Homo sapiens: one gene and its partners. The protein of the gene in region 2 interacts with the protein of the main gene of each other region in a biochemical or structural test. Each region holds a gene or a part of one and is shown on either strand. Other genes may lie near its edges. The genes, in order: BDNF, SORT1, NGF and LRPAP1.

Region 1 (7,194 bases), on a different chromosome or scaffold from region 2:
ACAACTCTCAATGCAAGTGAATATACACAGAAATGGGCAGCAGGATGGTCATTTGCCTGTCTGTCTTGCTTGGGAGTAAAAGAGAAGGCTAGGAACATGGCTGTAGGTTTGGTACTAGAAGAAAAGTGGGACCTATTCCGACTTCCTGATCCTGTGATTTTTTTCTTTTTTTGAGATTCACACACACACACACACACAAACTATGCACAAGTTTGCTTCCATGTTGTATAGCAAGAGTTTAAATATTTCTGAGTTAATGATGCCAAACTGTGCTCCGATTATATCAGCATATTTACATGATCCTTGAACACCACATATAGATTCCTATACTACACATTTAAGCAAAATCACCTCCTGACTTCACAATGAAAGAGACCTATTGGATTAAAAAGTGGTTTCTAGTAAACCCCAAAGAGATACTGTTACTAAATTACTAAATTTAAAGGCAAAATAGTATTCACTAAACTGATTTTTCTGTCTTATTTTCCTTATTTGGCATAATCATTAACCAACTTCTAGTAAATGGAAGCATTCTCACAATTTAAGTTTTTTTAGGGGGAAACACACAATTTATAAATACTGTCAAGTGAAGAACAGATTCCTGAATACTAAAAGACCCATGCATATCCTTGTATGTAAAAAAAAAAAAAATCCATCATAAAATCATAGACTCAAACACCATCTTTGATTCAGTAGTTCTCCCTCTACTGTGGCTTCTGCTATAGAGTCATTGTTAAAAAGAGTTCTTCATGAAAGATTCTCACATAGCAAAATGCTTTAAGAAAATGTCTAACAAACATTTTTATTGTCTCAATTTGTACACAAACTGACACCTGAAAATCAGAGAGGATAAAGAACTTCAATCTTTAAAAAAGAGAGGTAAGTTATTCCAAAATGCTACCAGTCAATAATTAAAAATACAGTTTGGGGGCAAGAAGTTCTGAAATAACTCAGAGAACTTGCTCAAGATTTTACTTTTGGACCAGTCCTCTTTGGGAGGGAGTATGTGAATAGGTAATGAAAGCCTTATATGAGAGAGTCAATGGAGAGCCATATCAAGGAGCACCTGAAGATATATGGATCAATACAGGGAAAAGAAATCCAAGTAGCCCAGTGCCTGACACTCACTGGGCACTCAATTAATGCACGGTGAATTAACAAATGAATTAATGAAAGAACCATTTGCTACATATAACATTCTTACTTTAAGAAAAAAGAATTTGAAACAGAAGAAAACATACACGCAAGAACACATACAAACTATAAACTATATGATATCCTAAAGGAGATGTAAATATTAAACTGTTTGCTTTGCTGACTGACACTATTAATACCTAAAAGCAGTATGAGAGATCACAAAGAATAAGTACTCATTCATACTTGGAGTGGGCTGCTCATCTTATGGTCTAACTTGCATTTTATGTCATGGCCATGTTGCTTAATCTCCAGCTGTTCTACAGAAGAGCAAAATAAGTTATAAATAAATTATTAAAGAAAAAAAGTAACTCTATCCATGCTGAGGCCTGAGGGAGTTGGGGGAGGAGTCAATTCCTTTTAGTTTATATTTAAAAAGAGAAACTCTTTGGAAAACTGTAATATCTGAAGATTTTGTGGTTTCCAAAAGTGAAGGTGAACGGTGAGAAGTTTTCTTAGTTTAGCTACTGAACCCTAAAAAAATATAACCTCAAAAGTTAATTTCTTAAGCAATTTGGGCACCTGAATTTGATAAGAACTTTTTTTTCCAGACATTCTGTTCTGTCTAACCCAAAGGAAAAATAGCCAATTTTGAGAATCTGTATACAAATAAGGAAAAGTAAAATACAGCGCTTTGCAAAGAAATGGGAGGGATTTCTGATACTCAATTCATGATGCTAAACACTTCAAGTAGATGATTCAAAGGCAGAAATATATAACTGTTCTCATTAGGATTGTTTATGGACTATAAATAAGGAGCAGACTTATGGCCAATGCATTAGAAAAAAACAAGTACAAAGGCACTTCAGAAAATACCTTACTCCAACCTCCCATTTTAGTGTCATTTCTAAAAGGGTTTCATTTCAGCCTTCCTACCTTTCTTCCTTCCTTCCCTTCCTTCCCTCCAACGGGGTCTCACTCTGTCACCCAGGCTGAAGAGCAGTGGGACAATCACGGCTCACTGCAGCCCCAACCTCCTGGGCTCAAACGATCCTACTGCCTCAGCCTCCCAAGTAGCTGGGACTACAAGTGCCTGTCACCAGGCTTGGATAATTTTTTTTGTCTTTTGTAAAGATGGGGTCTTGCTATGTTGTCCAGACTCGTAATGATCTCCTGGGCTCAAGTGATCCTCCCACCTCAGCCTCCCAGAGTGCTGGGATTACAGGCATGAGCCACCACACCAGACCTCTTTTTTCTTTATTATATATTCCTCTAATAAAGTGCTCTGTATGCAGTGAGCATTCAATATTTGCTAAATTAAATTAATGGAAAGTTTTCTAACTACCATGTAGAGTATCTAAATTTACATCATTGGTTCTAGAACTGCTGTCTGAAGCAACACAAATTACACTTATGACAGTTCGTCAAATCTTTGAAGCCCATCCTCAAAATAAGGATGTCAAAAATACATCACACATGTTGACACTCTAATCTCCCAGCCACAGTAGGCATTAGCAATCTGAATGTTATTTTTACTAATCCTTCACAGTTTTAGAATTCTTCTCAACCCAACATTCAAAAACCACTTGCCATTCCAGCCTAAGTTTTCTTGTCCCTAAGTCATGCATTCCAAGTCCCCTCAACCATTGCTCACATGCAATGCTTTCAAATTCCCTATGCATCCTGGTCACAGTGATTTGAATGTACACTAATTTATCGATGATGTACCTAAAACAACTTATTTCATTTCCTTGAACTGATGATAATATTCTAGATACAGTCTATTTAAAAAGTGAAGAATTATTAGCTTCTCCATTTCAGTATTATATTTCTAGCAGTGCAGCCCAAAATTTCAGTAGCTATGATAACAGCCTCTTGTCACACCACTGGCTTATACTGAACTTGCAGTTAATTTAAAACATTCAAGCTTCCTTTCTACAATCTGCTGATAAGTCATCCCCTAAAACCGTGCCCGCAACTCTCTATTCTCTCCTAAATTGATTTTTTTGTACTTAATCATAGTATTTTACATTTAAGTAAATGTAAATGATCCAGATTCTATCATTCAACAGAATGTCTGCAATATCTGCTGGCTTTATGTTTCATATGATAAGCATATCGTCTGTGCCTTCAGACACATTATCAGCCAACATGTCGGTGCTGGATGTATTTTCCCAATGTTGCATAAGAGGAATACCTTCGAGAGTTTGGCCTAGGAATGTGGCCTGGGACTCCGCCAAGCATCTCTCTCCAGCAAAATGACTGCAAATTTCTCGACCTTCAGATTCTACATGATGTAAAAGAAGTTTGTCTGTGTTTAAAAACACATTCAAGAAATAAGTGAACATGTGAAAAGACAGAAAAACTTGTTTTAATTTGGGCATAGTTTCAGTTTTCAAAGGCACATGAAGGCAGAAAGAAAGAATCACAAAATGGAACTACTGATGATAGCAACTCCAAAACCAAGACTGATTAGACTAAATCCCATGTGGCAAAAATTTTATTTAGTAAGTTTCCTTCTCCCTCTCTCCCTTTAGATATATGTGCATACACACACACGCACCTTTATTTTAGTAATTTTTTTTTTCTGAAAAAGAAAGTTTTCTGCACCTGATTGCTTCCATGAATAACACAAAGCACAAACAATATGACTTTCTTTGGTTATCATGCAATTTTTTCTCTGCTTACCAGAAATTGGCACAAATTTAAGATATACTATATTCTACTCCCTGAAGCACAGTCGCTGGCATCTCCACTGGCATTTAAAAATTTGAAGACATTTAAAAGAAAATCCACAAGCTTATAGTTGCTGTCTAAATCAACTTTAACATTTCATATATTCACAATTTCATAAGTGAATCAAATTACACATAAGAAATTATAGAACTAAGCCAACTAAATGACTTTTATAATAGGTACTGGGGAAAAATATTATTAAACCTTTTCCTCCAATTTCTGCCTTTCTTCCAGCAAGACAAACCATTTTCATGAAGTTTCTGTCTACATCACTAGTGATAATCTGAAGCAGCCATTAATCAATCTATTAGTGCATTCAGCAACATTTATCAAAGTGCCTCCCCAGAACTGTTTTGGATGCTGTTGTGGGCGCATGCAAAAATGAACTAAATATAGATTTTTGTCATCCAAGAATTTTAAGTCAATTTGTAATTATTGGTTCCTGGTTCCATAACTTTTTTTTTTTTTTTTTTTGGTGCTGGCTCAGATGTATACCTTCATCTATTCTAAGGTTAAGGCAATCCTTATAATTTTCTTCCTTTTTCTTGTTTGTTTGTTTTTTGTGTGTGTGTTTAAAATCTTGCTTATATTTGACTTTATTTTATTCTCACATCTTCTGAGTACATTAAAGTTAAAGGTAGATCATAAATCGAAAACATTCTTAAAGGTCTCTCTACTCAAATTATTTGGTGTTATTGTATCTCAGAAAGTATAATGAATTGCCTGTAGCAAATAAATAAAATCAGAACCTTTATACTCAATGGTTCGGTTTGGTACATATCCATGAAAATAATAAATGTTAAAAAGGATGCTAGCCGTTGATTCCTGGCATGCTATTCTACATTTGGCTACATTACAACGTTAAAAGGATTTAGTGCATATATCAAATTGTGGATCTGCTTGTTTTAAAATTTCATCTGTAATTCCACATGCAACCCCCACCCCCATACACACTCACAAGATCTGAATATGGTAACAAGGAAATCCTAGTAACTGTAGCGTTGGAAAAATGGTTCATATGGAAATAAGCCATTTGGCTAGTAAAGCTGGTGATTTTGTTCTCTAGGTGGCACTATTACTTCAATTTTTGGTGAGTTGCTTAAATTACTTGGAACTGCCCGTTTATTTTCTTTGAATTCCCATTTTATAAATTTTAATTTTATACAAGCTAGTTGTAATTAAACGACAGGTTGCCTTCTAGGTTTTATTTCAGTAAGTCAATTTGAAGTTCAGTGATTTTTTATCATATAATTTTATGTTTCCTTACTATACTGTCTTAGTTTTAAGAAATCCTCCCTTGCCTGACCTCCTCTCTCCAAAAATGCAGAGGCATGTCAAAAACACAGAGGGTCGTCATAAAGTTTCCGTCAGACCAAAGGAACCAAGATGAAAGCATGTTTAAGAGCTACTAGGTTCTGGGAGATTTCAAAATCAGGACATTACTACCATGACAACCAATGAAAAGTTCTTTCAAGTGAACCTTTGGGGAAAACTATATAACGTTCCTTACTCTCTAGGCTCTCTGGAAATAAACTTTTACTTTATTATGGCTGTCACTAAAGCTTGTAAATTTACTTTGCTTCCTTCCAATCGTTCTCCTGTCCCACACTCAGCCCCCTAACTCACTTAATGCAACCCATCCTCAAACATCAATCTATAAATGAGACATCAGGGCAATGAGCCACTTCTTAGCATCTAGTATATTTGATAAGATTTGTCTCATCAAGAGGATAAGTGCCCTAGAGCTTCTACTTGAACTTAAATACTTAATTTAAATGAAAGCTTCCACACTTATCTGACCAGATACTCAAATTTTTCTACAGAAAAGAGAATACCTTCCTGTTCCACTTAAAGAACACACACATTTACCACTCCCCCTCCTCTCCCCTGCAAAAGGTTTTCAATGTCAGTACATTAGTGAGCTCCATTTTGCATCTGCCATCAATAATGATTCCATATAGTCAATAATTGGGTTCATGACCTTTCTAAATCTTTACAGTGTAAATATTCTGGAAATCCAGTGAGGCACTTAAGTATAAAATTATTTAGGATTAAATAATTCTATGCCTTAAGTAGAAGTTTAAGAGGACGTTTAGGACACACATGACTAAGCCTACAAATACCAAAGCCACTCTATGTTTCCTAGGTTTAAATACCACATGCAAATAACATACGGATTTCATTTGCCAGCATCATTTATTGCCTAACATTACTCCATACTAAACAGAGTAAATGGATGCAGAGTGTAACCAGTAAGTTTGCTCATTCACTTTTGAAGCTCATCTGTGCATGTTATTCATCCTAATAAAGAAAATTTATCACAACACAACTTGATGCGATTCTTGTTCAAATGATTTCCTCTTCCATTGAACAACAGCCAGCACTTAAAACCTAGAATTCCACAGAATTCTCTCCTCGATTCCTCTTTAAAATGCAATTCACAGTTTGAGATCACAGAGCCTGCCAGTGGCTGAATGGCTGCACTAGATGGCTGAGAGTCCTTCAATTAAGCAACAATTTTGCAATTAGTGGAAACTGAGTGCTCTATAACAATTGTTTGAAAACAAGTTGAGACAAGTTAGCAATTACCCTATAAAAGGGACATATTCACTTTTGTTGGATAGGCGAGACCCCTCACACAAATTGAACTCTTCCACACAGGGAGATGCAAGTTGAAAATTAATGTTTTAATCACTAAAATCAAATCCATATTATGGGCACCTGAAATGGGAGTGCCTTTCTTCTCAAAAGATATTCAGAGTTTAGCTATCATCCACTCTCTATGCTGTCTGTTTTTATTCAGGAAGTCTGAAATTGTTCTTCTGTACTCCGGGATTAATTTCCTACATCTCAAAATGTTAATAAACTACTTGAACATGACCTTTCCATTCTGTAAATTTCCTTAAGAGTAAGTCTACGATTGAGACCCAAAGCTGCTGGCTGTGTTATATTTCACAGTTCACAGTTCTCTCTCTCTCTCTCTCCCCCTCTACACACACGCGCACGTGCACGCACACACACACACACACACACAGAGAGAGAGAGAGAGAGAGAGAGAGAGAGAGCACCCCAGGTTTTAGAAGATGAATGTAAAAAGAATGTAAACAAGTTCTCTGCTATACTATCAGGTGGGCGTGCCCAGCTCACTGTGCGTGCTGAACTACAAACCAGTGCTATTCATATAAGAAATGATATCAATCATCTACATTTTGACTATTGAAAAGCTGGGACTCTTAAAGATTCCAGGAAAAAGGGAATAGCTTACATTTTCATGGCGCCCCTTTTAAACAGGAAACCCACGGACTTTGAGCCAGGATTTTAGAA
Region 2 (7,194 bases):
GGGGTGGGTATGGATGGCCCTGGGCTCCCCTCCGTATCCTGGTATCGTGACGAAGGCCATGAGAACCAGCTCTGGTTTACAGACTCGATGCAGGAGCTGGAGGTGGCCAGCACATTACCAGCCTGTCAAGGATGAAAGACCACCTTGGGCATGGAGAGGCCCAGAGGCAAGCATCAGAGCAAGAGAGAGGAGGTGGGAAGTCCATTCAGAGGCAGACGTAGATTCTACGTTCCAGTTACGGCTGATCTATGGACTCTCCTGAGCCCGCCCCCAGAACTGCCGCAACTCTCCAAAGGCTTTTATTCTTTGAAATAGAGTTGCCATTGAATTAAAAGCCTACAGGAGAGACGGGCCTGGTCTGTGGTCTCACTAAAGCCCAATGCCCAATTAGGTCCAGAGAAGAAAGAAGAGTGAGTTCCCTACCTGGATTTAAGAACTCGGACCACTTTGGACTGGTTTGTCCAATCTCTCTTATAATGCTAAATTCCATTGCTGAAGCCTCCAGAAATGATCTCTTCTGCTACATCAAGCCTGGGAGTTTACACAATGATACACTATGTTTTACCTTCAAAGATAATGCTCCTAACATGAGTAGGACAAATTAGAAATCTATTTTTTTAGAAGCTGTAACAGATTTGGGCTTTCTTACTCTCTGGCTGAGGGCACACATTTGTGAGTGAGCAGGTTGATAAAGAAAGCTAACTAGCCAATAATGAGAATGAGCCAGGCTGGCTGTCAGTCTTCAAACCAACAGAGCTAGCCAGCCCGGGGTGGAAACCAGGATGGGGAGGGAGACCCATCAGTGGAGAGTCCACTCCTGCACTCTTGAGCAGTGACCCTCAATGAGGGGAGGGGCAGTTTCTGCAAACGTATTTAAAATTCCCATTACTTTTGTTTTCAGCCATGAAAGACAGGAAAATACAATTTTCTGTTCACCAAGGTGGCAAAAAGGTGCTAAATACTGCTAGGAAACAAATGCCACTGATCCCTGTCATAAAGAACAGCAAGTCATCTACAAGAAGGCAGCCTTGCTCAAAGTGGTTAGCACTCGCATGTGTAAAGATTTCCAAGAGTTCTGAAGACAGCCAGCCAGCACTGCTTATCACACACACGGGGACCCTGAACAACTGACTCCATCCCAAGAACATTGTGAGGTTCAAATGACATTATGTGAGTGAAGGTGCTCTGAAAATTTGCCAAGTTCCACAGAAATCCCAGATATCATTAAAAGCGAAGAGCCCTATCGTATATGGTTAGAGAAGAATATTGAGTTTCCTACGTCTTAAAATGAGTAAGAGGATTACCATGTATTGGTGCATCTGCCCACAGTGAGTACATGCTGGGAGAAAGGTGAGTGGTATAAACAGTTCTTTTCTGAGTACCAAATTCACTTTGGGCAGGAGGGAGGGTGGGGCAGAGGCTGACGTTTTCATTTGTGAGCTGGTGTATCTTCGGAATTATTTTTAATTTTAAAACCATGCAAAATGAATAAGCAAAAAGACTAGTGCACTCCAGCCCTAACCATATTATCTTCACAAAAACTGCCTCAACTTTATTTTCTAACTGAAGCTCCCTGACTCATTTCATTCTACTGCAGTTTTAACATCTCTAAAAGTCTCCATCCACTCTCTCCCCCACTTTCCACGCAGCTGTTAATCCATTCTGGGGAGGAGAGAACTTAGCCATCTGCTCACATTCTGACTAAAGTTAATTTGGCACTTCAAATAAAAAAAAAAAAAAACACACAAAACTGACTTTCTAGCCACAAAATAAACTAGTAGCAAATGGTATCTACCAAAGAATGTCCCAGTCATAATCATTGGGAGAAACTGTGACCCGCACAGTAGCTACATTAAGACCAAAAACTTTCCATACTATATTTCTATATAGCAAATATTCAAGCTGTATTAAAACTAATTATTGCAGCTTTCCATTACTATATGGCCACCCCAAAATCCACCCAACTACATTCTATAATTTATTTAATTTAGAGAGGTATCAAATGGAAAACTTCTTTTAATCCAAAATAAGAACTTAATGTATCACACAAAGCATCATCTAGACTGGAAGTGTGTTTTCAATTGGTTCCTCCAAAATTTTCGTGTCAACAAATTACTTGGCAAAGTCAGAAAAAAGGGGTGAGAAGGAAAGCCTGGTAATAAAATTCTAATTTTTTAAGTCTATAAATCTGAAAAAATCTCTAGTCCTGGTTCCATGTACAACAGCAACCTAAGAAGCAGCAGATAGGCAGCCATTGTCATGATTTAGCAACGAGCCACACGACAGTTAAGAAGGGAACATGGAAGACTGTGAGGTTCCGTCTTCGGGGGTTCACACTGTGTACCCGACAATCAACTCTAGGGAAGAGATCATTCAGCCTGGGCAGACTTCCAGCTAAGTTTGTACCCTGTCCTTGCGTAAGTCTACTGGCACACACACAAAGCACAGCTTGAAAAATCTCAGAAGAAGCAAGAGTTCTCTTTTAATAGGTGCTATATCTAGTCAATTCTCTGCTGCTCCCTTCTTCCTGCCCCAAGTTAAAAATATTGCCCTGTAAGTTTTCCTGATGTACTGTGTGGGAAGCACATGGTTAAGTTAGTTGCCAAAGGGCAATTAACAAGGGTATTGCCTAATTAAACAAGGGAAAAGAAAAATCACTGTGGTCTGTGGTCTCTGAAAAAAAAAAAAAGAGTAAGTGGGATCTGTGTGAGGAGCTGGTGTGCAGTGTTCTTGGAGTAGGACTGTCCCCAGATGGAGAAAAGCCGGCCAGGCTGTGCCAGCCTCTGCAGCCTGTTTTCATCTCTACAGCTGTTTCGTCTCGCCAGCAGAGCCCAGGGATGGTACCAAGTACACTGTGAGAGCTGATACTGGAGTTGGCAGATGCCCTGGGGCAGGCGCCATGCAGAACACACAGAAGTGGGGTTAGTGAAAAGGTCCCTTCGAATTCCATTTCGTTTCCCTTAAAAAACAAAAACAAAAAAGCCCATACTTTGCAAAGAGACAGGACGAGAAATAAGAAGTTAAAGAATTTAAAATGTCTCCCTTTTTCTCAGAGCCAATTGTAAAAAAGTGCTCAGGGTTCCCCACCCCCACCCTGCATTTCTTTAGTGTAGGTCCTTTTGGCTTTGATGGAAGCAGCAGAAACAGAGCTGGGTCCCTCGCAATGGGAAATTTATTTCCTGAAGTTGGAGCCACAGGGAGTGTAAGAGGTACTGTGGTTCCACCATCCATGCTGGGTCCAGCTCCTCTGAAGAGCTATTCCAAGAGGTCCTGAAAAAGACATGCACCATATTACCGACAGACCACAACACTCCTATTTCAAAAGCAATCACCTAGTTTCTGGGCTTGCCAAATCTTATGGTCATTAAGTCGCCTTGGCCCTGGCATATCTTGATCATGAATAGAAGACAGACTTTATTTTCTTGTATTTTTTGGGGGGGGGGGTACTACCATTCAAGAAGAAATAGCCTCACCTCATCTGAGTCATCATGATAACCACTTTTATTAGTGTGGGAGGCTGTGTCCAAAGCATCCACACCATCCACACCATTGGCCTCTGCATGCTGCTGCAGCACAGAGTATCGATGCACCAGGAACCTGTGAACAGAAACCTCCTTAACACTCGGTGGTACACAGCAGGGGTGCACTTCTTACAGGACTGTGGACTTTCTCAGTTTTATACACTCAGGAACGCATCACAGACACAGAAAGCACAGTCCATGGTTGACATATGAAAAATGTACGACATGAGAAGATTTGGGCCTGATTTTTCAGGAACAGTACTGCAAGTACCTAGTTTTTGCCAAGAGTAGACTCAGCCATATGCCCTAGATCAGCCTTCTGGCTTGAACTCAGTACCTTGGATTGACTTCTGTGTTCCTTACCTTCCCCCACAGACATATTTCTTCACAATGAGCACTCCTGCTACGACTGTGACCAGCATCAATCCCACGATGGCCAGGATAATTGGAACAGAATTTGACTTGGAATTCTTGAGAAATTAAAACACAAACACAAAAGTTTTAGGCATGCATATCCTAGGACTGAGGTCAAGGCAGCCACTCATTCCCCTCATCTCTTTGTGAATGATCTGCAGTCCTGATGCGCTTAATGATGGCTCTTTTCCAACCCCCCAAGATGAACCATCTCAGTGTTACCAGGAGAATATTATAGCTGGCAGAGAGTCATCTTAGCTCCAACTGCCTTGAACCTTCAAATTCTGTGGTTTAAATGTCAAAGTTACACTGGAAGCCTGGGCAACTGCCTAGATCAAGTATGATTGCTTCACACTACCACTGTTCACAAGTCTTGGGGCTTAAGGGTGGAGTAGGAAAGGGAGACTACTGTAACAGTAGGCTGAATGACTCTAGAACAGGGCCATTATCTGGGAAGAAGCTGTGTCAGAAGAACCAGGCAGGCCATTATATGACACCAAGATTTATTTGTTTACTTAATTTTTTATATATTATTATAAATAAGCCTTATCATATCACTGTTTGCATGTGACCTACCTGCTTCTGGGTGGGAAATAGGGAGTGTGTGTTTTCAATGTATCCCAGAGGAGGCAGAGCTGGATTCTAGGACAAGCTGTGTCCCTGTGGGTGGGAGTCCTGTGCAATCACACACACGAACACTCTGAGGAGAGTCACCAGGAGCCCAGGACAAGGGTGCACAGAAGGAGGAACTCGCCCCCTTACCAATACACACACTCACACACTCCTCTCCCATCATCTCCTTAATCCCACCCCTTGTCAGTCCCTCATCCCTTAGAACAGCAGAGAGGAGGGACTGCAGGTGATCCAGCTTGACCTCTCCTATTACGAATTGGGAAACGGGCCTGCTGTTGAGCATCTGAAGTCATGCTGCTGGTCTAGTGTTTCATTATCAAGAGGTTTCCTCTTTACACATCTCCAGTTCCACAGGTAGTTCAGTGCTACAGATTTGGATGCAGCCTCATAACCTTTTTTTTTTTTTTTTTTTTTTAAATTGAGACAGGATCTCACTCTGTCACCCAGGCTGGAGTGCAGTGATATGATCATGGCTCACTGCAGCCTTGACCTCCCAGGCTCAGGTGATTCTCTCCCTTCAGCCTCCTGAGTAGCTGGGACTACAGGCACACACCACCACATCCGGCTAATTTTTGTATTTTTTTTGTAAAGATGGAGTTTCTCCATGTTGCCCAGGCTGCTCTCCAATTCATAGCCTCAACTGATCTCCCCACCTCAGCCTCCCAAAGTGCTGGGACTATACAGGAGTAAGCCACCATGCCCGACAGGTAACTTGCTTCATTTAAATCAAAACCAGCCCATTACCATAGCTCAATTTTTCACTTTGAACATACTTAACATGACTTGGTCAGAGATCCACCCTACCTATTGCCCAGTGCTCTTCTCTTCCACACATGCACAATTCCAGGTCATGGCCCTTCACAGACAACCTTTTTTTTTTGGTACGGAGTCTTGCTCTGTTGCCCAGGTTGGAGTGTAGCAGCACGATCTCGGCTCACTGCAACCTCCACCTCCCAGGTTCACATGATTCTCCTACCTCAGCCTCCCGAGTAACTGGGACTACAGGCGTAAACCACCACACCCAGCTAATTTTTGTAATTTTAATTTTTGTATTTTTAGCAGAGACAGGGTTTCACCATGTTGGACAGCCTGGTCTTGAACTCCTGACCTCAGTGATCTGCCTGCCTTGGACTTCCAAAGTGCTGGGATTACAGGTGTGAGCCACTGTACCCAGCCCACAGACAACCTTTTTGTTTTCCTAAATGACTCTCAGCCTCAGAAATTTCCACAACTGTATGATTTTAAGAATTTTACAACTTTACAGAATATCATCCCCCAACCCTCAATAAGAAAAGAGCTTTCAGTAGGGTGAGCTTATCACTGGGTTACATGACCCATCCTTCATGCTAACAGCTTCCTGTATAAGGGAAGCCTGAGAGAAGTAGTTTGACCACTTTTTATCAGTAACAAAACTCTTGATGCTTTAACTTTGATTTTTCTTAGCAGAACACAAAATCCCATTTGTACCTGAAAACTAGACCTATTTTAACATACCTGTTTTTCCGGACTCAAAAAGTTGCTTGTGCATTTCTTTTTCAAGTCTTTTACTTCTCGAACTGGATTTACCCCACCCTGGCATTTGTCCCCTGGAATTTTCCGGTACCTACCAGGCAAAGAAGATTTGGTAACAGAAGATAAGGATGTATTCCTGGGTACCTGCCTATTTCTTGGAAACAAGATTTGAAAAGCTGCCGAAAAGCTTCCCATCCTTACGTCATGTTTCAGGCCTGGGGGGAATGTCCACAGGGATGTTTTGGGGGATATTTTGTGTAGTTTCAGGCCTTAAGCAAACTAAGCATCTCTGTCCCCTGCTGTCAGAAACATGCCTGTTCTTTCTACCTAAGAGACTGTGCCAAAGAAATCTGACCCCAAAAAAGCTCATTAACAAGTGGTACAAAATGGGAGAGGGGAAGTTATCAGGGGAGCGAGGTAATGAGGCCCGTCTAGAGCAGCACTGTCCAATATGGTGGCTACTTAAAATTGATTAAAACGAAAATTTCAGTTCCTCGGTTACACTAGTGTCCACAGCTATGTGTGGCTAGTGACTATCATATTGGGCACAGCAAATTACAGAACACTTCCATCACCAAAGAAAGTCCTATCAGACAGAGCTCTCCCTGGCTGTGCCTAAACTGTGCCAGACGAGCGATGGACGTTCATGGCGGATGGGACGCTTCTGTCATTCTGCCTGTGGGTCCCTCGCCTCTCCTCCCTTCCTGGGGGTGGTTGGGCGGGAGGCAGGGGTGCAGGATCTGGCCGAGCTTGTTCTCCTGCTCTGCCTCGTGGTGTTGGTGGGGTTGAGTCCTCTGACACCAAGCACTCATGGCTCACCTCCTGTAGTTGACCCTTGAAGGAGGCCTTCATATCCTGCCCCTCCCCAACCCCGCCAAAAATAGTGCTCTAAAGTAGGGCTTGGATCTCAGTGTGGAGAGAAGCAGCTTTCACTCTGAACAAGAACACCTCATCCATCGTGACAAGGGAGAAAAGGCCACCTCACCCATTTGTTGTTAGGTGTTCTTCTCTTCCGTACAGACAAAACTCCAGGTCGTGGCCCTTCAGTTCTGGCTGTTCCACACACTTGGAGTCATTTTCTGGACGGTAGTAGCCAAAATCACTGCAAGAGTCA
Region 3 (7,486 bases), 6.0 Mb from region 2:
GTCTTCTCCATTGCATGTTTTCATTCTTCTGGTCTTCACTAAACTTTGTGGCTGAAGGTTTATTCTCCTCGGCTCAAATAGTGACGTTTCTATGCTTCTGCACAGCCTAATAAAAGACCGAGGACCCCAAAGCCTCAGTTTCTCCATTCACATATCAGCCTCAGGATCATCCTGGCCTTACTGCTATTTGGAGTTAGGATCTTAACTATTTTCCCACTGTTATCAAGCGATGTCTCATGGGAATGGATTGGGGAAGGGTCTTTCATCCTCATTTATTTACCCAATGCCAGTGTACACTGTTTTCTCAAAATGGTCCACCACAGAAGTGATTTCTCAGAACTGGCTAAGCCTGAGAGCTGATGGTTTGTGAGATCAGCTAGTGAAAGAAACACACAGGAACTCTTTCTGTGTCACAGAAAGGTGTTTTCTGGGAGCATGGGTTGTTTGCACACAGATATCCAGAGATTTTATGCAAGCCGTCAGCAAACCTTCCACTGCTTCCTGAGATCAGAGAATTTGCTGCCAGCAAAGGTCTCTTAAGGCTTGCTCTAGACTCTGAAGTCAGTGAAAGTTCTTACTTGGAAAAGGTAAATGGCTGGGCCTCTGCTCCCAGGTCTGGCACTGACATCTGCTTGGGGATCTGGGCCTTGGCCCTACTCCATGCCCAGTAGAGAAGAGCAGTGGCTGAATCTCTGTGTAGTTTCCCTGCTGCTCTGATGCAGGGTACTGCAGTAAAGCACTCCATCAATGAGCAGCAGGAGTGCTCAGCACTCTTTAAAAAGTAAAGTTGTGTGATTTTTTTCATCAGTTTATTCTCGGTAATGATGAGAAACTTCCCTCGGGCTCCAGCCCTGCCCTGCCCTACCCTACTCTCCCTGCTGATGTCGGCAACCAGGGCCCCCTTCTTGTCCAAGGCACAGATTTCTCCCTGAAAGAGAATGAGAGTGTGAAGCCTCATTCCTTGCTCCCACTGGCCCTTGGGGCAGGAGAGTTGTGGGGTGGGCAATAGGAGAAGGCAAGAACCTCATTCCTTGGTACAGGTTAAAAGTAGGGAAAGAGTCACCAATACCGGGATGACTGCCCTGAGTGGGCCCAGTTCATTTCTCTGGTGGGCCTGGGCTGCTGTTGGAAATGCAGTGGTGCCAGCAGCTGGTTCTAAAATCCTCTGAGGTGCTCCTATACTTCTGTCAAATTAGTGTTCTCATGCCCCAGTGATCTTGGCTTCCCATTTTTGGTGCTTCCTTTTTCCCTTCACCTGCATAAAGATGTTGGGGAAAGAGTGGGGTAGGAGTTTGGCAACATGTGGCATTAACCCTATCCCCCTTCAACAAGAGGAATGTTCACTTTCTGTGTGAGTCAATTCCAGCTAGGCCAGTCTCAGCCCCCAGACCCGCCTGTCTCCTCTGACCCTCTGGAAACACTGCCCATCATGAATTGACATTTGGGTTGCTCAGGTTGACGTATGACTTATTCAACAAAAGAGACCCATCAGGTTTGATACAGCCTTTCTTCTTTCTTCTGTGACTCTGCAGAGGGAGAAAGTTTCAGACATTCAGGAGGAAACTGTAAACACAGGATAAGAAGGGCTGGCAGGGGCCAATGGCTGCTGCCCTTCTGCACTGCCTCGAGAAGGGGAAAGATTCCCTTCCAGCAGACTTAACTGACGGCTTCAAGAGTTTGAGGACCCTGGAGAGAAGTTACTGATGGGGTCTCCACTGTCATTTCTGCATTTGCAGAGTGCAGCTGGCTGTGCATGGATTGGGGAGGAGGGGACTGGCACTGGCAGTGGGTGTGCCCAGAGGATGGAGCCAGAACAATTAATCAAGTGACTTTTCTACAGGATTTCCATTGGCCTTGGATGACAGATGGGGCAGAGGCACCCAGGAGAGCACTATTTTGGTTTCCAGCTGGGAACGTGCACTAAGTTTTCCTTAATACCCACAGCACCCAAAAGGCTTTGCTGTAATACACTTTAATGCATGAAACACTCATAAATTATCCTTCGAACTGTTACAACTTCCAACCTGGAACAACTTGGAAAAACCAGCCTAGCAAGCAGGCTCTTTTTTAATCTCTCAAATCACAAGAGAAGAAAAAGTTCAAGCACGAAACACCTTCCTTAAGAATCTCGAAATTTTTTTTGTTTTGTTTTTGTTTTTTTTTTTTTTTTTTTTTTTTTTTTTTTTTTTTTTAGAAGGAGGTTTGTAATTAGAGGGAGCTAAGCTGCTTGTTTCTGCTGGCTCAAAGTTGCAGCTCCCTGACCCCTGAGTCCTCTCTCCCTCCCCTAGATCCTCCTCGCCTGAACTCAAGGCGCTCCCCGCCCTAACCTTCCACGCCCGCTTCTCCCACACCTGGCAGCAGACAGCTGGAGATGAAGCGTGTGACCCAAGTGGCAGGGCTGAACCTTGGCGACCTCTACCTGAGGTTGTCCAACGCGGCTCCGTGGAGGGCCCCGGTACGCCGGACGGACCCCGGCGTTGGCTCGCAGACTTCCTGCGTTAACCCCCGGGGCCCTCAGTCACGACTCCCAGCCCTTCCGAGACGCGCTGAGGGAACTGCCCCAGGTCTAGCGCGCCCCGTTCCGCTCCTCCCCCTACCTGGGGGCCGCGCAGCACTTTCCCTACTCGGCGCTCACCTCAGCCAGCGCGCTCTGCGCTCCCCCCGCGGTGCTGGCCGCCACTCCTCCCGCCCTGGCGCGCCAGCTGCCGGCGCATCCCTCTCCGCGCCCATTCGCTCTCCCTCACTTGCGCGTTATCCACTTCTAGCCCTCGAGCTAGACCCTGGCATGGCCGTGGGCTTCTGCAGGCGCCAGGGCTGCTCCCTGGACTGCAGGCCATCCTGGGACTAGGGACTCCACGACCAGAACTAACGCTGTTCCCTCGGTCCGACTCGTCCTCCCGCGAGGGTCCCGCGCCCCCACACCCACTCGGGACATTTCTCAGGGCTGCTCTTCGGCCTGCGGGAGCCTCGGGGGTAACCAGAGAGCTCGCCAGACCGGTATCCTTGCAAACTCTCCCGCGAAGCCCAGCCACCCCTGCCCGCGCCCGCGCTGCGCCCCTCTCGGGATCGGCTCGGGGCAGCCTGACTCACCGCTGCGCTCCCCTCCGGCTCCCAGCGCTCTCTGCTGTGCCGGAGCGCCGAGCTGCTCTCACACAGGCTTCTTGAATTCTTAGCCCCTCCTCCCGTACTCCTGAGTCACACGCTCCAAATCCTGGCCCCCATCCCTCCCCTCCCCACCACCAGCCCCGCACCTGCTGTGGCTGGGCTGTGGTGCCCGGCTGGAGGGGGTCCTGGGGACTACAGACGGATCGCTCCTGGAGGGCTGGCCAGACCCAGCCAGAGAAGGACTTTAAACCTTCAGAGGTCAAAGGGAAACCCACTGGGGTCTGAGGGGCCGCGCGCGCAAAGCCGGGAGGGGGAGTTTCTGGGGCACCGGCAGGGGTCGTTGGGCCGACTGGCTGGGGCTGGGCGGAGTTGCTCGCAGCTTCCCTCACCTCTCCGCCCTGCCCCCGCGCGTTGCCCTTCGCCAGTGCCTCCCTGGTCTGCCCGGCGTCGCCCTCGGTGCCCCAGGCATCGGCTGCTCCTTTTCTTCGGGGCGCCTTTCCTTATCCCAGGATAGGTGAGCACCCAGGGGGAGCTCCGCGAGGGGCAGGTGCCCAAGCTCCTCTGACAAGGGAAGGCGGCTGCAGAACCAGCTAGAAGGCCCCCAGGCCCGGCAAGTCCAGCATGGGGACAAGGGGCAGAGGACTTCAGGAGTCAGGAGCTAGAGCCGGGACCTTAACTTAAGGCCCTGGGTTCCAGGAACTTCCCGGAGTCCTTGGCCCCTCTGAAACTGTAGGCTGATTTGCGCGACTGTGTGCAATGCTAATATTCTTTTCTGAGCTGAAGGTCCGCAGCTTTCATCAGTTTTGCAAGGGGTCTGTGACCCCAGACTGATATAGCCAGCAAACCCTAGGCCCCCATGCCCCCCTCTCCACACTCCAGGCCCCACACAAATTCTTCCTGACCCTTCAAAATTTCTTGAGTTCCCTCGATTCAGCCTGACAGGAGAGCTTGCCTGACTTTCCCCTGCCCCTCTGCCAGGGCTGTTCCCACCCCAGCATAAAATGAGCAAGGGAGAAATACCCCTGAAGTCAAATTTGTCACCAAATGTGCATCATTAATTGTAGCATTCCAGGGGATTCGTAGCTCTTTGGAAATTTACAGCCCCACTCCCTCCCGTGTTGAGCTTGTCTGTGCCTTCGCTTCTTCCTATAGCAAAGGTGGGTTGGACCCCTACCCTGTATGGATGCCACAGAGGAGAAGTAGGTGTGAGGAGAGTAACAGGGAGGGAAGGTGGGGCACAGAATCTCCCTATTGCTGGTAACACCAGCCAGTGCAACTTAGCAGAAGGGCACCCTCCAGGGAACTGGGATTTAGTGAAGCAGATGATTCCTGTCCTAAGTCTGGGGGTGGTCATTTACCCTTAATGGATGGCACTTGAGCAAGATGAAGCCCTGACTAGGCATTTCCAACTCCCTTGATTCAGATTAGTCTTGAGGTCTTACTTCTTTCTATTTTCACGTTTGCTCCCATAAGAAAGTTCATTCCATTTACACATGCTCTGAGAAGGATGAAATAGGCAAAAAGCCCTGGAATTGGAAGTCAGCCTTAGCTTTGGTGTGACCTTGTTGTTTCCCAGCCTTAGGCTTGTCCACTTCTGACTTGTTCAGATACAGGCTGGTGTATGAACACACTTTGGAAGTGAGGGCAAGAGGCCAGGGAACACTGTGAATGGCCCTTTCTACAAAAGTAGTATCATAGTCGAGGTGATCCATTAGGAAATTTATCATCGTCAATTAAACAAAAGAATTTCCAGATAACAGGATGAATTCATCCATCAATCATGTCATGTATAAACTTGTTTGGAAAGCACTAGCCCCAAGCCTTACATAATAGCTGCCTGAGAATTTGGGTATGAAATTAAACTTTTAGAATAACAGAGAATTTGGTTGTTGAATGCAGAGCATTTGTATGTGTTCTTGTGGCATCATTCAGAAGGACAAAAGGATTTGGGACACTTGTGGTTCTTTTCCATGTGGTATGTAAGGGGGAAACTTTAAGTGATGTAAGCAGATTATAAGTTTGCTTATATGCTCCATCCTCACCCCCTAAATTGTTGGTCATATTCTTCTTGCACATGTTGATTTAATAAGAGCTCCTTTCTGCCCCTAACTACCTCTATTTCTGTCCCTGGACTTCAAGGATCTTGAGTAAATAAGAACATGTAAACAACAAACACAAAAATACTCCAAAGATTATTGATTGAGAGCCTACCATATGCCAGGCACTGTGTGCTGGCAGTGGTACCGGCTCTCAGAGAGCTTATGTTCTAGTGGGGGCTTGATTATTAGTCCCTGGCCATGTTTATCACAGTTTCCCTAGGTCCTAGCATAGGACCTGGCCTATAGTAGGTGCTCAGTTAATACTTGTTGAATCCAACAACGGTCAGAGTCATTTGTGACTGTCAGACAACCCACCAACACTGGATTGGTTTCCAGCAGGTTCCAGATCAGCCTGCCTTTGGCACAGAGACCACAGCCAGGTGCCTTTTCCCCTGCCTCTTCCACTTTCAAGAAGGTTCAAACAGAAATGTCCTTCTCTTGGGTCATTGAGAGAAGGACTTCTGGGCCTGGACCAGCTACATTCATAGGAATGAAAAACAGCTGAGAGGGCAGCGGCCAGAGGAATGGTGCAGACAAGCAGAGGATAAGAATGTTTTTCTGTACTAGATTTTCTCGAAAGAGCCTTTTATCCAGGGTATCAAAATAACCAGCAGCTGATGCATTTGCTGACTTGGAGGAGAGATTGTGGCGTGTACAGTAATTGTTGTTATTTCTGAAGATCTAGAAGGCTGCAGCCATTGAGTGCCTCATCAACAGCAACAGTCAGCTAGCACAAACCCCTGGCTTCTCCCTTGCTTCATTCCAGGAGGCCAGGACAAAGTGCATGTGCTATTTAAAACACCAGCAGGCTCAGCAGAGATCTGCCAGCAAGGATGGAATCACTGGATCTGCTAGTTCTTCATGTGAAACACAGAAATATTGTCCCAATTGCTGGAGGAAGTGATAGCTTCCGTTTAAAGACTTTTTTTTCCTCTTCCTTCTAATCAGAGTGAAGAAGAACTTCAGAAGAGGAAATGTTTCATAATGCTTAGTGAGATGACATGTTCACAGAATCACAGAAATGATCAATCCAGCCACCTTATTTATGGATGAAGAAACAAGGGCTCAGGAAGGACAAAGGCTCAGCCAAATACACGTGGCCAGTGTCCGGCTTTTTGACTTCTAAGCAAGCCTTCCTTTTACTACACTCCCTGAAAGAGGCTGGGAGAAAAACTGACCAATTCAGTCTACAGGAAAAAGCTGGTAAAGGAGCTAAAGTAGGCAAGGGTGCAGAGAGGGCCAGGGGTGCCCCCTTCTCCTCTGGGCTATCCCTGCCTACTCCTGTGGCCTGTTCCTGGCTTTTGCTGTTTCTCGCTGAGATCTCCAGTTCCTCCATCTCTACTAGTTCCCTCGCTTTTGCTTGTGAACATTCACTTGCCTTTTCTCTCTTAAAGAAACTGCTAGCCCAAACTCTGGATTTCTTAGCTTCCATTCACTACCAAATTCTTCAGCAAGGTAATCTATACCCATCATTTCCTTGGCACCCCCTCCCCGAAACTTTCTGCAACCAAGTTCCCATCTTCCTCCCCTACCTTTCCTTTCTCCCTACTAAACTGATAATTTTTTTTAAAGGTCGTTAGTTGCAAGAACACCACCAACACCAACACAATCTCAGCAGCATTTATCTAGTGCTTGCCTTATTTCAAGTACTGGGCAAGGCATTTTTCCTAGCCTTATTAATTGGTCCTATTGATTTGTAGATAAGATGAAACTCTGAGAGGTAAGTCACTTCCCAGGTCTCATAGCTAGCCAAACGGCTGAGTAGAGAATTGAACCCAATCCCTTGCTGTTAAATGCCACGCCTCCTCCTCCTTTCAGCCAAGCTCAGCTGACTTTGACAGTCCTAGTCCACTCTATTCATGACCTCCTTTGTCTACAACTTTCCTTTCAGAACTCCTGTGACCACACTATCCTGGCTTACTAGCCACCTCTCTGATTTCATCTGCCCTCTGCACTCATGGGCCTCCCACAACTCAGTCCTGGGGCTTTACATTCTCCTCCACTCTTGTTCTTCCAGGTGTTTTTTTCTACTAATTTTATAATTCCAAGCATGGTTTCAACTCTGGCCTCTCCTTTAATCACCAACACTTTGAGTGTTATGTGCGAAGCACTACCTAGGTTCTTGTTTCAGCGAATCTGCACAGGCCCTGGCGAGGACTGTGTTTCTGCCTCTCCTCTGACTCTCAGCCCCTCCATCCAAAGCCCTTGCTCTTAACTCAGCCAGGCAGCTGCCCCACAGATCCCATTCTTGAAAGGTCAGGAAATCCACGTGGGCCCAGGAC
Region 4 (7,194 bases), on a different chromosome or scaffold from region 2:
AAGACTCCTGAGCAGAGGCTGTCCCTGGAGCTTTGGAGGTCAGAGGCCATGCAGAGCCCTTGTGCTCACAGACGACTTCTGAGGACTCTGCCTCTTCAGAGCTCTGTGTGTTGTGTTGATGCTGAGGAGTAAGCTCCAGGGTCTGCATGGTCCAGCTGCGGCGCTCAGGGACACACTCGTGTACCTCTTGGCCTGGGCTGCACGGTGCCATGAGCTCGGAGTCCTTGGCCATAGGTCCTTAGTTTTTTTGGTTTTTTGTTTTTTTGTTTTTTTTGAGACAGAGTCTCACTCTGTCGCCGAGGCTGGGGTGCAGTGGCGTGATCTCGGCTCACTGCAACCTCCGCCTCCCAGGTTCAAGCGATTCTCGTGCCTCAGCCTCCTGAGTAGCTGGGATTACAGGCATGCACCACCATGCCTGGCTAATTTTTATATTTTTAGTAGAGACGGGGTTTCACCATGTTGGCCAGGCTGGTCTCGAACTCCTGGGCTCAAGTGATCCTCCCGCCTCTGCCTCCTAAAGTGTTGGGATTACAGGTGTAGTCCCAGGAGGCACCGCACGCAGACAGTCCTTAGTTCTGACGTGAATGGTGACTGCAATGAGAGTGTGTGAAGCATCTTGTTCTCAGAGGTCTGACGAGTGGAAACTGAGGTCTGCAGAGAGGAGCCCTCAGAGCCCCACCCCAGCTCTCAAGCGTCCCCCCTGGCTTGAGAAGGGCCTCTGAGGATGGGCCAGCCAGTGGCCTCCATGGGCACCTAGGACTCGCCAGGCCAATGCATGACCTCACAGCAGCTCAAGGCGGGTACGGCTGTGCCCTTGTCCACGGAGCTCAGGTGGAAGGAGCTGGGGCACAGTGGCTGGGCTGGGACAGTGCATGCCACCTGCCGTGGTGAGACAGGTACAGCGTGCCAGGAAGCCTTGGTCACCGCCACAGCCTGCTCCTCATGGTGGGTGCCTTGCAGTCTGGCGCGGGCACTCAGGTGAGCGCTGGGAGGATGGCACATGCCCTCTGAAGAGGTGGTCCATTGGCGGTCCTGGTGGCATTGGAACCTGCCCAGCCTGAACTGTGCGGTGTGTGCAGGTTGACACCAGTGGTGTAGCTGTGGACCCTGGCCTGGGTTTCCTGGGGCGTTGAGAAGCAGCAGCAGGTTATTGGAAAGTTCCAGAAAGCTCTGCTGGCACGCGGGTGGTGCTGTGTGGGGAAGGGCCACTGCTGAGGTCCCAAGCAGTGCTGGGCCCTTGGGTCTGGTCAGGAGGACACGGTCGGCTCTGCTTGTGTCTGGGGACACAGGACCGGCGTCGTTTGATCAGCTGAGCCGGCTTTCTTGCCTGCATGTATACCCTGGTTGTTGATGATTTGCCTCGCTGCTTCATGTTTGACAGGTTCTTTTCTGCAGTTGGTTTCCACAGGGTACTTCTAACTTGATGCGTTAACATTTAACTTGAGAGAGGTGAAAGAATCCAGACGTGGGGTCTGGGGTCTGCACGTGACCTGCTGGTCTTCCTCTGCACAGAGCTGGGGCTGCTTTTTGTGGTGGTGCTGCCAGGCTGGCCCCTTCTGCGCTGAGCACTGGCAGCCACACATCAGGGGAAAGGGAGCTGGCTTTTGTGAGACATGCGGTGTGAAATTTAGACCCCCTGTTGCCTGAGAGTTGGGGAATCAGAGGGAGAAAATGACTTTCCCCTGTGGGTTGCAGATTTTACAGCCCACAGAGCACCTGCCCTTGATTCTCCCAGCACCCTAGGGAGGCAGACAGGAAGCCAGTGAGGACTGCAAGTTACAGGGGTTGGTGCCTGGCTGTGAGCCTGCCAGGATGGGCCCAGGACTTCAGCAGCCCTGGGTCTTCAGCTCCGCTTTCCAGCAGGCAGCCCATGGGCAGTCATGGGACACCTGCATCCTCTCCCCTGCAGCCAAAGAGGGCAGACCCGGGGCCCCTCAAGGCCAGCACACACTTGAGAGCATGGGCCTGAATTGCCTGCCCCAGGGTGCTGCTTCTGGCTCAGACCATCACTGTGGGCCTCGCATCTCAGACCCTCCCGGGCAGTGCAGCACGGTAAGTAAGGCGCCTACAGGGTAGCAGCAGCCACGGGGAAGTAGAGATGGAAGCAGACCTGTTCCTCCAGGAGTTTGGGTCACAAACAAGATAGGCAGGTGTGGGCTCCCCCTCCTCCTGAGGCACCGACTGCCCCTCCTGAGAGTTCAGCGTCACTCAGGTGCCTCATTGTCCTGGGTCCTCCTGCTGGGAATGCTCAGATCAGACCTCAGGTCTCCTAGGGCCTTCCAGTGGACGCCGCAGGCAAGTGTCCAGGGCACAGAGGGGCACGGGGTGGAGCTCTGGGGAGAAGGGGCTGGGTGGATGGGGCTGGCTGGGTGGATGGGGCTGGCTGGGGAAGAGGCACACAGGTAGGGGTGTGTCGAAGGCTGCCAGGGAAAGGGTTTTCAGGTTGGGACAATCCTGGAAAGCAGCCCCTGCAGAGATGGGGGCGCAGAGCATCTACCAGGAGGGCCCAGACAAAAGACTGTCCTGGGACCACCCACTAAGGGTTAGAGAACCTTCTAGAGAATTAGAAGCTTTCCTCTGCCCTAGGCCCTGCCATTCATTTTGTGCCTACCGTTTGCTATCTTTTTACCATTGGGGATCTTGGCTCAGTAATCTGAATTCATCCCTAACTAAATTTTAAACTCCTGGAGGGTGGGGCCTGTGTGGCTAGGGCAGCCACAGAGTCAGGCTGGGCTTCTGAGAGAAGAGAGGGCGGAGCTGACAGCCCCAGCACCCAGCTGGAGACAGGGCCTGTGGTCAGGGGTCTCCTTCCTCCCAGGCCCAACACAGACTGAGCTGCAGGGAGCAGGATGGGCTCAGTCTAGATACAGGCAGAGTGAGGCGAGGAGGTTCCGGAGTGTGGGGTGTGCCAAACACACAGAATTGGCTTCGTGCGAGTCTTGAAAGAAACGTGTGCCCCTGCGCGGCGCGGACCTGAGGGCTGGGCCTCCTGAGGTCTCGGGCTGCAAGGCAGTGTGGGCCACAAGGCGGCGCGGGCTGCGGGACACTGGGAAGGCAGCCGGCTCTTGACGCTTCGTGGGGATGTTCACTGTTTTACGTAAACTTTATTGAAATATAACACACATACTTTGGATACTAGCTTGTGTTGTATTTATGTTAGAAAATAGCTAATGAAATATAGATAAAAGATTAATATTTCAAACGTCTAAGGGAAAACAGACTCCATATTTAAACACACATGATCAGAGACAGGCGTTAGGTGATGGGCACCTGGAGCTCAGAGGCAGGAGCTGGGGTTCCCTCCTAGAGCCACGGGCAGCTCATGAGGACCAGCCCCGGGGGAATGTGAGAATGCAGGTGCTCAGGGAAGGGGACCCTCCTGAGAGCCGAGAGATTTGGGGATCTGCACTGCACAGTGCCGAGCACTTCCTTTGCTGCAGGACTCCACAGAGGCTTTAATGCGCTGGCGTCACTACAGGCATGCGGTGCAGCCTCCCCAGTTAGCCAGGGACAGCACCCTGTCTCCGTGAACCCTGGTCCCACCTCATGACACGTTCTGGTTCACACAGCTGGGCCACTCTGCTCTGCACGGAAGAGCCTTCGCTTCCCTGAAGGGCTAGCCTGCCCCAGCGCACGCCTCTTAGCGGCCGGGCCAGCCCCGAGGCCAGAGTTGATGAGAGCTGGCCGGTGGGTTTCATTCTGCTGCTTGCCTCGGCCGCCTGGCATTCTGGCCCAGTCTTTCTGACGTGGGGACACTCTTGGCCTAAATCCTGTCTTTGCAACCAAAAAGCAGTGTGCCCAGCGGTCACCTCACTTGCTTCCTTCTCTCACCCAGGGTCCCAGAGCTGGGAGGGCAGGGGTGGGATGAATGAAGCGTGGCCTGCCCTGCGGAGAGGGATGAGGGTGGGGCGGGGAAGTTCCTCAGCCCCAGTGCGGCAGCTCGTTCCGGGGCGCTGCCTGTGTGGTCTACGCCAGCAGGTAAGTGAGAGGGTGACAGATTCCTGCTCCAGAAGGATCTGGGGCTGTGTAAGAACCGTCTCAGCAAGACAGTTCGGATCATGGTACACTTGAGAGGTGGTGACTGAGGGTCTTTGGGAAATGAAGATGGGGCAGATCTGAGATTACAGTGATTTTTTTTAAAAAAGAACTTCTAGGTGTCTGTGTCCTTGCAATATGTATCTGCAATGGTAATGCAGTGGGTATCTTCTTCCTGCTCTGTTTATCCGAGTGCCCGATGACTGTCCTCAGGTGCTAGGGTGGGGTGTCCTGTTACAGCCGGACAGGAATGAGCAGCCGCTGCTGGTGGGGAGCCCCCGATGGACTTGGGGTTTCCGGATCGTGTATACAGACAGGCCTAGAGACTGGTGTCCATGTTGAGTTCTTGTCTAAACCTGTGGGGTTTGAATCCTGCTGACAGTGACCCTGACTCCACCTCTTCCTGGTCTCCCAGAACCTCCCGGTGGCCAGCCTCCTCCGAGGTCAGTTTCTCGCTGTGTCCTGGTCCGTCCTGCTCGTGGCTCACAGGCTCCTCCCCTTCGTTCGCAGCTGCATCTTCCTCCCGTGAGGCTGGCCGAGCTCCACGCTGATCTGAAGATACAGGAGAGGGACGAACTCGCCTGGAAGAAACTAAAGCTTGACGGCTTGGACGAAGATGGGGAGAAGGAAGCGAGACTCATACGCAACCTCAATGGTACGTTTGTTTCTTTCCTAATGCAGGTCGAGTATCCCTCTTCCTAAATGCTTGAGAGCGGCAGTGTTTTGGATGTCGGATTTTGTTTTTGGATTTGGGAATATTTGCATTATGCTTAATCTGGATATCCAAAATGAGCCTTTCCCCGAGCATCCTGAGTGCCCAGAAAGCTTAGGATTTGTGTTGGGGGCTCACCCTCATGAGGGAGGTGGCCACTGGCTTCAGTGTTTGGGGGGGCTAACCCTCATGAGGGATGGTGGCTGCTCGCCTCAGTGCTGTGGGCTACGCCTCTGACTCCTTGGCTTTTGGCCAAGGGGCCCATTGGGCACAGCCTGCGGGGGGCTATCCTCCGAGCACAGATGCGCCCTTGGCCGTGGTCTCAGTTTGCTGTCACAGATGCCATTGGCACGCCAGAGGGAGGGCCAAGGCAGGGGCTCTGGGTGCAGGAAGGGGCCGGAGGACAGCAGGAGGCTCTGTCACCCAGAGGAGGAAGCAGGTCTGCCCTAGCATCTTGAAGTTTTGGGGACATACTCCAGATGTCATCAGAATGGACACTTGGTTGTCATGCGCTTAGTGAGTCCTCGTCCCTGTGGGTATTCAAGAAGAGGCAGGACAGTCGCCTGCTTGGTACCAGCATACGGAAGACAGGTGTGTCCTCAGAGCCGGGAGGGTTTTAAATGACAGAGTTGCGACTGTTCCTTTTGGACCCCTCTCCTCCGCCATCCTCCCTCACCACGGGCCCGTCGGCAGGGCACTGGCGGGCAGAGGACGCACACCAGGTGGGCCCGTGGGACTGGGGTTGGGGCTGCTCCGGAGAGTCGAGTGCTCAGCTGCCTGCTGTCAGCTATGTGTAGCAGCCCTAGGAGCTGCTGTGCCTCCACCCAACTGCTGCCCCTGGGCCTGACCCCAGGCACCCCTTCCCCAATCCCCTCCCCCGCTGCTCCCTGTGTGACCTGGGCCCCCGGCACAGTCCCCTGCCCCCCACCTCCGTTTCCTCCTCCTGTCTCACAGGACGGTGGTGTGAACCAAGTGGGATACTCCCCACTGTGGTGGGGGTGGGGGTGGCTGCCATCGCACTTGTTGCTGTCGTGAGGGTGGCCCCAGAGCCCTGGCCATGTCTGGAGTCTGCTGTAGCCCTGCTTTTCACACGCGCTGATGGCCTCAGGCATTGCAGCGCCCGGGTTGTCTCTGGTAAAGAGAGGAGGTGTCTACGGAGTTCCTTCGTTAGGCCTGATGCTCTAACACCTACTCCTCAAAACTCGTTGTCGTCCCATTTGACAGGCTCAGAGAGGGTGATTTGTCTGGAGTTGCAGAGCCGAGTAGTGCAGCAAAGATTTGGAGTCAGGGTTTTCTGACTCCTGAGCAGGTGGTCTGTTCCCAGCCACCCCTCTTCTCCCATTGGCAGGCATCAGCAGACATGTCATGTGGCTGCGCCCGGGTTAAAGACAGAGGGCCGGCTTCATTTTTGCTGGTTTATGCCACCATGTTCAAGAGTCTGGTTGAGACGTAAGCCAAGATACGGCGGCAGGGACTGCCTGGGGAAGAGAGACATGGCTGAAACAATTCTGGATGGTTGCGTCCCCACCAGCGTGTCTAGTGGGCCATTCCCAAGGGCCAAGAAAGAGCCTGTCCTGGAGGTGCCCCCAGGAAGAAGGGACTGGCTATGCAGCAGGGCAGCATTCGGGGCCTGGAGGAGACAGAGTAGCTTGCAGGGGGCACAGAAGTGGGCTAAGAACCAGCTCCCTCCTGCAGGCCAGGCAGTGTCCTTGCAGGGTGTCCAGGTCTGTGGCCCAAGTGGAGCTGTCTTGTTTTCTGCCATTGCCTAGTGACCTGGCAGAAAACTTAGTGGGACTCTAGGAGCCGGCGTCCCAGAAGCAGACCCTGCCCACACTCAGGAAAGAGGCTCGTCCTGGCCAGTTCCCCGCCATCTTCTGGGTGTGGTCCCTGGACCCCCGAGGTCCCCCGTGCCATTATCAAGTGTGATACCATACCTGGGGGACCAGCCATAGCCAGGTGTGCCTGCCCTTGGCACCCTCCATGCTGAGGTCCACCCTGAGACAGACGGGCCACGCTCCACTCTGCCCTGCCCTGCTCTGCTCTGGGGTTCGCTCCTGTCCTCACCCCCACCGCGCCCCCAGGGCCACTTCACTCCCCAGGCAGGGAGTGTGGGGCGGCGTCCGTCCTCCCCAGGCAGGGGGTGTGGGGCGGCGTCTGTCCTCCCCAGGCAGGGGGTGTGGGGCGGCGTCCGTCCTCCCCAGGCAGGGGGTGTGGGGCGGCGTCTGTCCTCCCCAGGCAGGGGGTGTGGGGCGGCGTCCGACTTCCCCAGGCAGGGAGTGTGGGGTGGCGTCTGTCCTCCCCGGGCAGGGCGTGTGGGATGACGTCCGTCCTCCCCAGGCAGGGAGTGTGGGGCCGTGTTCATCCTCCCCAGGAGCTCTAAGGGCTCGGTGCTCCTGAGGCCGCCTCCAGCTTCAGTGCTCTGTGACTCCATTCCATGCAGAAGAACC

What was found.
Region 1: the proteins of SORT1 (region 2) and BDNF form a complex in vitro, tested with the Homo sapiens proteins (2 studies listed by BioGRID and IntAct, with this or other methods).
Region 3: the proteins of SORT1 (region 2) and NGF form a complex in vitro, tested with the Homo sapiens proteins (3 studies listed by BioGRID and IntAct, with this or other methods).
Region 4: the proteins of SORT1 (region 2) and LRPAP1 form a complex in vitro, tested with the Homo sapiens proteins (4 studies listed by BioGRID and IntAct, with this or other methods).

What each region holds. Positions count from the first base shown.
Region 1 is NC_000011.10:27,690,262-27,697,455, forward strand, and holds part of BDNF (neurotrophic factor BDNF precursor form isoform a preproprotein), read right to left. Parts: intron 880-7,194; exon of another isoform or gene 845-879; intron 1-844. UniProt on the Homo sapiens protein: Important signaling molecule that activates signaling cascades downstream of NTRK2. During development, promotes the survival and differentiation of selected neuronal populations of the peripheral and central nervous systems.
Region 2 is NC_000001.11:109,310,788-109,317,981, forward strand, and holds part of SORT1 (sortilin isoform 1 preproprotein), read right to left. Parts: intron 7,183-7,194; coding exon 7,066-7,182; intron 6,172-7,065; coding exon 6,063-6,171; intron 3,992-6,062; coding exon 3,885-3,991; intron 3,598-3,884; coding exon 3,474-3,597; intron 3,271-3,473; coding exon 3,256-3,270; 3' UTR 1-3,255.
Region 3 is NC_000001.11:115,335,114-115,342,599, forward strand, and holds the start of NGF (beta-nerve growth factor precursor), read right to left. Parts: upstream 3,137-7,486; 5' UTR 3,091-3,136; intron 1-3,090. UniProt on the Homo sapiens protein: Nerve growth factor is important for the development and maintenance of the sympathetic and sensory nervous systems.
Region 4 is NC_000004.12:3,522,403-3,529,596, reverse strand, and holds part of LRPAP1 (alpha-2-macroglobulin receptor-associated protein precursor), read left to right. Parts: intron 1-4,545; coding exon 4,546-4,690; intron 4,691-7,194. UniProt on the Homo sapiens protein: Molecular chaperone for LDL receptor-related proteins that may regulate their ligand binding activity along the secretory pathway.